Linked DNA regions of Homo sapiens: region 2 is linked to region 1. Evidence: fine-mapped expression QTL. Tissue or cell type: T cells. Region 1 holds a variant in brackets; the other region holds the start of a gene. All regions are shown on one strand. Distances are between the middles of the regions.

The links.
Region 2: it holds the start of TMEM45B, and the variant in region 1 is fine-mapped to the expression of TMEM45B in T cells (TOPMed, PIP above 0.99).

What each region holds. Positions count from the first base shown.
Region 1 is chr11:129,852,902-129,857,279 of GRCh38, reverse strand. TMEM45B (transmembrane protein 45B) reads right to left here. Exons shown (of 6, transcript NM_138788.5): 3 at 2,464-2,670; 4 at 1,388-1,572. Among named protein-coding and RNA genes, the nearest start is that of TMEM45B, 39 kb to the right of the region's middle. The variant G/A (reference allele first, on the strand shown) is at 2,189.
Region 2 is chr11:129,813,523-129,817,909 of GRCh38, reverse strand. TMEM45B (transmembrane protein 45B) reads right to left here and starts at 2,062. Exons shown (of 6, transcript NM_138788.5): 1 at 2,012-2,062. LOC124902793 (a long non-coding RNA gene) reads left to right here and starts at 3,223. Exons shown (of 2, transcript XR_007062952.1): 1 at 3,223-3,942.

The DNA of each region.
Region 1 (4,378 bases):
TTGGTCGTCCTGAGAAGCAATCTAGCCGTTCTCCTGTGGCCACCGAAGTGGCCCATGTGTGACCACCGCCTCATAGTTCCCACACTTCGTTAGCATAGAAAGGCCTTTTCACATAGAAAAATGGCTCTGGCCAGGTATGGTGGCTTACGTCTGTAATACCAGCACTTCGGGAGGCTGAGGCAGGCGGTTTACAAGGTTAGGAGTTCAAGACCAGCCTGACCAACATAGTGAAACCCTGTTTCTACTAAAAATACAAAAAATGAGCTGGGCATGGTGGTGGGCACCTATAATCCTAGCTAACTGGGAGGCTGAGGCAGGAGAATTGCTTGAACCTGGGAGGCGGAGGTTGCAGTGAGCCGAGATCATGACACTGCACACCAGCCCGGGCCACAGTGCGAGACTGTCTTAAAAAAAAAAAAAAAGCCGGGCGCGGTGGCTCATGCCTGTAATCCTAGCACTTTGGGAGGCTGAGGTGGGTGGATAATGAGGTCAGGAGATTGAAACCATCCTGGCTAACACGGTGAAACCCCATCTCTACTAAAAATACAAAAAATTAGCCAGGCGTGGTGGCGGGCGCCTGTAGTCCCAGCTACTTGGGAGGTTGAGGCAGGAGAATGGCGTGAACCTGGGAGGTGGAGCTTGCAGTGAGCCAAGATTGCGCCACTGCACTCCAGCCTGGGCGACAAAGCGAGACTCTGTCTCAGAAAAAAAAAAAAAAAAAAAAGGCTTCAGCTTAATTTTGGTTGTATAGGCTTACTTAAAAACACAAGTCCAGGTGCAGTGGCTCACGCCTATAATCCCAGCTCTTTGGGAGGCTGAGGCAGGCGGATCACTCGAGTTCAGGAGTTCGAGACCAGCCTGGCCAACATGGTGAAACCCTGTCTCTAAAAATACAAAAAAATTAGCCAGGTGTGGTGGCGGGCACCTGTAACCTGAGCTACTCAGGAGGCTGAGGCATGAGAATCGCTTGAACCTGGGAGATGGAGGTTGCAGTCAGCCAAGATTGCGCCACTGCATTCTAGCCTGGGTGACAGGGTGAGTCTCTCTCAAAACAAACAACAAAACAGAACTTCAGGGCCCACGTTTCCAGTGGACAGTTTAGCAAGCAGAGCCTGTGAAAGGCATCAGCCCATCCTCTGGGGAGGGCAGCTGAACGTCACCGTGCATGCTTTAAATTTTGGATTGCTAATGCATCCTCTGGATGTTAATGGATAAAACTAGGAGTCAAAGGGCGGGCATGGGGGGAAAAGGGTCATCTAAACCCCTTTGCATGGCATGTTAATGCTGCATTTTCAGACCCCATATTCTCGTCAGGGATTTCTCTGGGATGCGCTCGGTGGGGGCTTCTCCATCCAGACCAGCGAGGGGCCTGGGTGTGGAAAATCACCTGCCAGAACCAGGTTCCCTGAAGAATGATGAGACTGGTTCGGAAAAGTTCCAGCACAATGTGGTCCCGGAAGATCACCTCTAGGGAGATACTAACACACCCTCCGAACAGAGCATACAGCAGGAGTGAGTGGATGTGCTGGTCCAGCGGAGGCCGGTTGTGGACGTGGTAGTAGAAGAGGAAACCTGCCACAAACCAGATGGCAGCTGTCAGGGCTACGCTTGGCTTTCACCATCACCGAAGTTTCCTCCTACACCTGTCTCAGCTAGGTTCTTCAGCATTTAGGCAGTTAGTACATAACATTACAGGCAGCAAACAGATGCGAGTAAGTGTATTTCATGAGTATGTTAGGAGTATAAAGCAGCAAGGGATTGTATCTTAAAATCTCTATGGAACCCATGGTGGGGTCAGTATAGGATGGGCCGGCTGAAGCATGTTGCTGATTTGTAACAGACTGTGTGTGTATACTTGAAATTCAGTTTTGCCCTCAACCTTTTTCGACTCTTGCTGAGGTACAGAAGTGAGGTTGTTAGATGACAAAATGTATTTTCATACCCCAGTCAGTGTGAGTCATACTGGCAGCGCTCCCCTGGCAGTGGAGTGGGTCTCCTGAGGCTTGTGATGGAGGCAAGACGGTACCTCCCTGGGCAAAAGGTAGAGTGTGGTTTCGCTTAACCAAAGGGGTGTATCCCCTGCATGGTGGCATTCAACCAGCTGGGGCATTGTGTGTACCCGCATGTGTATGTGCGCACATACGTCCACACCGAGGAATATGCACGTGTGTGAGCAGGGGCTGCTGGC[G/A]GCAGTGGGAAGGCGAGGAGGACTCCTGCAGTGTTAGCCGGGGCTTTGGTAGCTGCCTTCAAGCCTCAAAGCTTTCATGAGCTACTTTAGGGAATATGTCACCTGGCCCATCCAGAGTAGAGCACTAGGTCCTATTCAGGTTTTGGCAGTCCAGAGATGTGGATTTTCTGGGGGAGGTTATTATATTTGCAACATTTCTGATATTTTGTACTCTGATCCTTCATAAATATGACTTGTCAGGCTCTCCTTCCTCTCCATCCGTTCCACAAAATTACCTTCCATGAATACTGCCACAGCCATAACCAGTCTGTCCACCCCCAAGGGAACGTGGCTGACCAGATAGGTGAGCATGTCAACAATTCCTGAGACTGCAAAGAATAGGTACATGGTGCTGTGCTGCCAATTCATTAACTTTATCCAGTGGTTCTCATGGTAGAGGTGCAGGTGGGGCCCATCCGGAACAAACTGCTCTGCCAGGATCCCTGCAGGGAAATGAGGATGGATGTTTTAGAGGGAAGAGTAGCTCTAAGACAAATAGGAGCAAGGAATAACCCAAAGGCATGAGCGAAGCGGAGATGGGGTGAGGTGAGGGTGGCCCGCGGGTCAGCAGAGCTACTTTGCTGCCTCAGGTGCAGCTGCTTCAGTATAAAGTAGGGTGTGTGCTGAGTCACCTGTGTAGACATCTTGCCATTGTTGTTCCTTTTAGGGGTTTGGGGTTGAGGGTAGAAGAATCAATGAACACAACCACACACACATAGATCCCCAGGAGGTTTGTCCAGGAGCAGAGATGAGCAAGACATCATCACTTAAGTCGGAGTGTGGCTGATAGAATAATCTCTGGGCTTCCCTGCCAAGTGAGCAGTGAAAGAAATCCCAGACAGAAACAATTAGGCTGAAAGCAGAATCTGAGCAGAGACACACTGGTAATGAAGATACCTGTACGTGCCAAGGGAGGGAAGCGGCTCCCAGGTGCGTGTCTGCAGGGCTGATTTTGAGTGCGTGTCCTTCCTGGGCACAGAGCCAGCTCTGCAAGCCCTGCGCCCCTCCCAGCTGTGTGTTTTAAAACACCGGGTAAACAAGGCAGAGGCCCCAGGATGTGGGCCAGAAAATGACGAAACTGCGACACAGGATAGCTCTTAGTTCTTATCCCTTCTACTTTTATCAGCTAATTTGGAAGGCAAAAGATTTGTCTTTATGCCTGGTACCCAAAGTGTTCTTGGGGAAGCCTAGAAGAAATCCTCCATGATGACATTTTGGACTCCGTTTCCCAGATACTTGTTTCTCAAGCCAGACCCTTTTTGAATTCCCACACACAGAGTCAGGAAGTTGTGGAAATGACCCAGGAAAAGTCCCAGTGACACTAGAATGGAAGCCCTGTGACAGCAGCGGCTGTGTGGTTCCCCAGTGTATCTCCTATGCCTGGAACAGTGACTTCCTGGCTTGTGGTAGGAGTGCCAGAGAGCTGTTGAATGAGTACCATTTTCACCCAGTCAAGGGGCCAAATATTGTAATTGTCCTAGCTTTATTTAGGCAAGGTTGATGCTGTCCTGATCCTTTAAGCCACAGGTCCCTGTCACTTCTCACGGGAGGCCTCTCTGATGCCTGAATGGTGAGTGGGGACATTCAGCAGGATGAGACCAACAAAGCCCTGTGAAGCTTTGCTTCCTCCAAGAGAAGCGATGTTGCTTCACTCTCTCCAAGAAGCCATAGGCCACTGATGACAAGTGGTAATTGTCAGTTGCAGATTAAGACCCCTCATTCCCCCCAGGTGGGGCTGGTCCTGAGGAAGAACACTTGTTACTGTCATCACTGCTTGTTCCTGGAGGGCCGCAGTGGAGCGGAGTGGATGCGAAGGAAACAGTGGGAGTGGGTGGATCTTGTTGGAATGGGGCAGAGTGAAGGAAAATTCCTCTTCAACAGCCCTCTGCTGCTTTTTCTCTCCCACTGGCTAATTTACGAATCTACATAAACTCTCTATAAGCGCTTGAGACTTGAGGATGAAGATAAGCCAGTGGGTTGGGTGTTAACTACTGTAAGGATCTGGAGGGAGAGACAATTGAGGAAAAAAGGTGATTTTTCTACTTTGTCACAACTAAGGTACGTGAGCCTAATCTATTTTGTTTTTTTCTCTTTTTATTTGTGTCATATCTTTTTCATACAGTGGGTGTTTTGCTCCTACAACTTTCCATA
Region 2 (4,387 bases), 39 kb after region 1:
CTAGGGGAGTGACTCTATGTGTGGTGAAACTGTCCTCACCCATTTTTCATTTGAGGAAAAGAGATAATCTTTTGATTACACCCAACACAGGTAACATCTGTACTTTGAACAGTTAAGTATAGCAGCTGATGTTTAACTGCAGGTAGGGGGGAGATGAGAAACAGAAATAACTGGTGCCAAATGTGAGATTCAATTACCTCGACCATCACAACCAACATCAACCAGAAGGGTGTGGGAGGAACTCATGGAATAAATGGGAACAGGTGTGGCCTGAGGATAAGTAAGTGGGGGCACTGTTTCCATCTTCATGAAGATGTGAGAGGAAATCAAAGCTCTTTAAAAAGAAGGAAATGGAATGCTTGGCTCCTGTAATATCAGAACAAATAATGCACAGCCAGAGGTCATGCCTCACCTTCTGCTTATCTCAGTCACCTCCACTTGTAAAATCAGTGGGCCATATTCAATAAAACCTTCATATCAGTTCCATATCTTTTCCCAGAAACCCCAGGAACAGAGGGAGCCAATATCCTTATTAAACCAAGAAGCTCACTGTCACAAAGAGCTAAGTCTGACGCCCCTGGGCCCCTACCTAACCACGTGTCCTGATTCTTTCCATAACTTCCCACTGCACAACATCCAGGTTATACTGAAGATATTACACATCTGGTTAAAAACAGTACACGTCTCTCATGAACAATAAGCCATCCTTTCTATTAAAATGAGTGTAAAATTGCAGGTAAAATGCTGTAGGCAGGCCTGTTTGGAAGGCTATGCGACCCTAGGAGACAAAAAGGTGCAGGAGGAGGAAAAGGGCAGACACCGCAGAAAGCGGTCGAAGAGAACGTGAAAGAAGTGGCCATTTCTAGCTGGGCGCGGTGGTTCACGCCTGTAATCCCAGCACTTTGGGAGGCTGAGGCGGGTGGATCATGAGGTCAGGAGATCGAGACCATCCTGGCTAACACGGTGAAACCCCGTCTCTACCAAAAAAAAAAAAAATACAAAAAATTAGCCGGGCGTGGTGGCGGGCGCCAGTAGTCCTAGCTACTCGGGAGGCTGAGGCAGGAGAATGGTGTGAACCCGGGAGGTGGAGCTTGCAGTGATCCGAGATTGCGCCACTGCACTCCAGCCTGGGCGACAGAGCGAGACTCCGTCTCAAAAAAAAAAAAAAAAAAAAAAAGAAGTGGCCATTTCTGCAACTTTTAGGAGAGCTACCTGCCCTCAAATTTTGAAAGGGTTTCTATTTCTTAAAGTGCTACGTTTCCCTGGCTGAAACTCACATCTTTCTTCCCTCTAGGGCTGGATCAAAGCTTCAGAGGTTGTTTCTCTGGCCCTAGACAGGGCCACCCCCGCAAATTTCTCCCCCACTGCGCCTGACATCCGCTTCCATCCATGGCTCCATTAACGGAAGCTAAGCACTGGCTCGGGGGACTTTATCCACCGCCCGGTGTTATTAGATTCCAGGCTTCCTGGCCTCAGGAAAGGATCTGGCTCGTGTATTTGTGTATCGCAGCTAACAAGGAAAGGCAGTCGGTACCAGTGCCCAGAGCTATGTGAGCTGTGACTGGTCACAGCCCAGGAGCCAGATGGCATCCCCGGGGGCGCGCGTCCCCGGACTCACCGGGCAGACGGAGGCCCGGGGCTTCACACCTTCCCCTCACCGGGCAACGCGGCAGACCTGACTCGCGGGGGACTGAGCAATATTCGTTCCAGGGCCGCGGCCAGCCGGACAGAGGCACTCGGGGGCGGTGGGAGTAGTGTGCGCACCGGTTCCGCAGCCCGGAGGGGGCCCCAGCTGGGCTTCCGCGACACCAGGGCCCTCCATCCCCTCCCGTCCTCCCCTAGCGCAGCCTTCACCCCTGTCCCAGAGCCCCTCCCTGTCCGCGTCCCCTCCCCCGCAGGTCCCCTGCGAGTCGGAACCTCCTCTCCATCACAGCCCCGCTCCTTGGCGGGGCCCCCTCTCCCTTCGAGCCCTCCTCCAGGTTCGAGCCCCCTGCGGGTACGGACGTCTGACCTGTGCCCAGCGCCTCGCAGCCGTCTGCAGCCCGCGCCGCGCGCCAAGTGCGTCCGCCCAGAAGCAGGTGCAGCTCCAGGCCCGCCCCGCCCCGCTGCGCCCCGCCCCGCTCCACTCCGCCAGGCCTGGCAGCCGCCAGCCCCTTTCCACCCTTGACCGCCCTTCCCGGTCCCGGCCAGCGTGCGGGGCATCTGTCGTCAGGTCCGCACTTCCTCCAGGCCTTTGACTTTCCCGTGGAGATGTCTCTGGCCTCAGGAACTCCCTAAGCTGTGTGCTTCAGGAGAGGCTGGTTCCTGAGTCACCCAAGAGGACTGCAACCAACCTGGACCTCCTGAGATGCAAAGAGATCGCAGGGCCTGGGAGGCGGCGAGGACCCTGAGAACAGGCTGTGGCTCCGAAGAGTGTTTGTTACCAAGCCAGGCAACCACTGCGAACACACCGCAGAAACAGCCACGGATCACCGTCCAGCAAAGGAAGAAGGTGCCAACGGTCCATCAGGGACCACAACCCAGTTTTTTTAGTTTAAGTTTGGTGGCTAAGTTTGAGTGTCACATAGTTCATTCATTCCTTCATTCATTCAACAAATCTGCCATGTTCCCATCTGATAACAGATCTGACAGGTGGGCACTGTTCTAGGTGCTGGCGATAGAGCTAAGAAGGAAACAAAGTTCCTGTCCCGGAGAAGGGGGCTACCTGCTGAGGAGAGCATGACTTTCTTTGTGGTATTGTGCTGTGGCAGCAGGGTCCTCTTCTGTAAGCTACTGAGAGGTGAAACCCGCTGGGCTTCTGGGTCGGATGGGGACTTGGAGAACTTTTCTGTCTAGCTAAAGGATTGTAAAAGCATCAATCTGCACTCTGTGTCTAGCTAAAGGTTTGTAAACACACCAATCAGCACTCTGTAAAAATGCACCAATCAGTGCTCTGTGTCCAGCTAATTGGTGGGGACTTGGAGAACTTTTCTCTCTAGCCAAAGGATTGTAAATGCACCAATCAATGCTCTATGTCTAGCTAAAGGTTTGTAAACACATCAATCAGCACTCTGTAAAAACGGACCAATCAGCACTCTGTAAAATGGACCAATCAGCACTCTGTAAAATGGACCAATCAGCGCTCTGTAAAATGGACCAATCAGGAGGATGTGGGCAGGACCAATCAGGAGGATGTGGGCGGGGCCAATGAGGGAATAAAAGCTGGCCATCCGAGCCAGCGGCAGCTGCGTTTGGGTCCCCTTCGATGGTGTTGGGGTTTTGTTGTTTCGCTCTTTGCAATAAATTTTGCTGTTGCTCACCTTTTAGGTCCACACTACCTTTATGAGCTTTAACACTCACAGTGAAGGTCTGCAGGTTCACTCCTGTAAACCAGCGAGACCAGGAAGCCACCACAAGAAACAACTCTGGAGCCGCCACCTTTAAGAGCCATAACACTCACTGTGAAGGTCTGTGGCTTCACTCCTGAAGTCAGCGACACCACGAACCCACAGGGAGGAGCAAACAACTCCAGACGCACCACTTTTAAGAGGTGTAACACTCCCTGCGAAGGTCTGTGGCTTCACTCCTGAGGTCGGCGAAACTACGAACCCGCTGGGAGGAAGGAACAACGCGGATGCGCCACCTTTAAGAGCTGTAACACTCCCTGCGAAGGTCCGCGGCCTCACTCATCAAGTCGTGCATAGACCACGAACTCTCTAGAAAGAAAAAACTTCGGACACACCTGAACATTTGAAGGAACAAACTCCGGACACACCATGTTTAAGAACTATAATGCCGTGAAGGTCCGCGGCAGGACCGGGACCAGGAACTCTTCAGAGGGAACCAATTCCGGATACACAGCTTCGTGGAATGGTTCTGCACTGTGTGTGTGTGTGTTTCCCGTCAACCCTGTGCACACTATTAGAAGAACACAAGCGTTAAGGCTCCCTCTCAGTCCTGCCGGTAAGAATCCAGGGCTGATGCACCTATTAAAAGCTTCTCAGGAGGCCTGGGGAAGTGGGGGTTGAGAACCACGGGTCTAGATCTCTAAGATGCCTGGCAGCTTATTCCACTGTTGAGGGCACTGGCAATCAGGAAGGGCTTCATGGAAGAGATGTTTGCATTTGGGTTTTAAAGCAGGGCCACAGCTAGATATTAGCAGTGCAGAAGGACACGGGATCCGACGGGCAGCCTGTTGACCAAATGGCTCCGTTTTTATAAAGTCAAAGAACATCACTGTGAAGGATAAGGCATTAACTGGAGCAGACCTTTCCCTGGTAAAACAGAGCGAATGGGATCTGGTGGGAGGTGGTAATGGCCAAGAGGTAGTGCCGTCAGTGAAAAGCGTCATGGAGTCGTGCACCTTACAGGGAGGATGGGCCGCAGCCAGGAGCTGAGAGGGCATCTT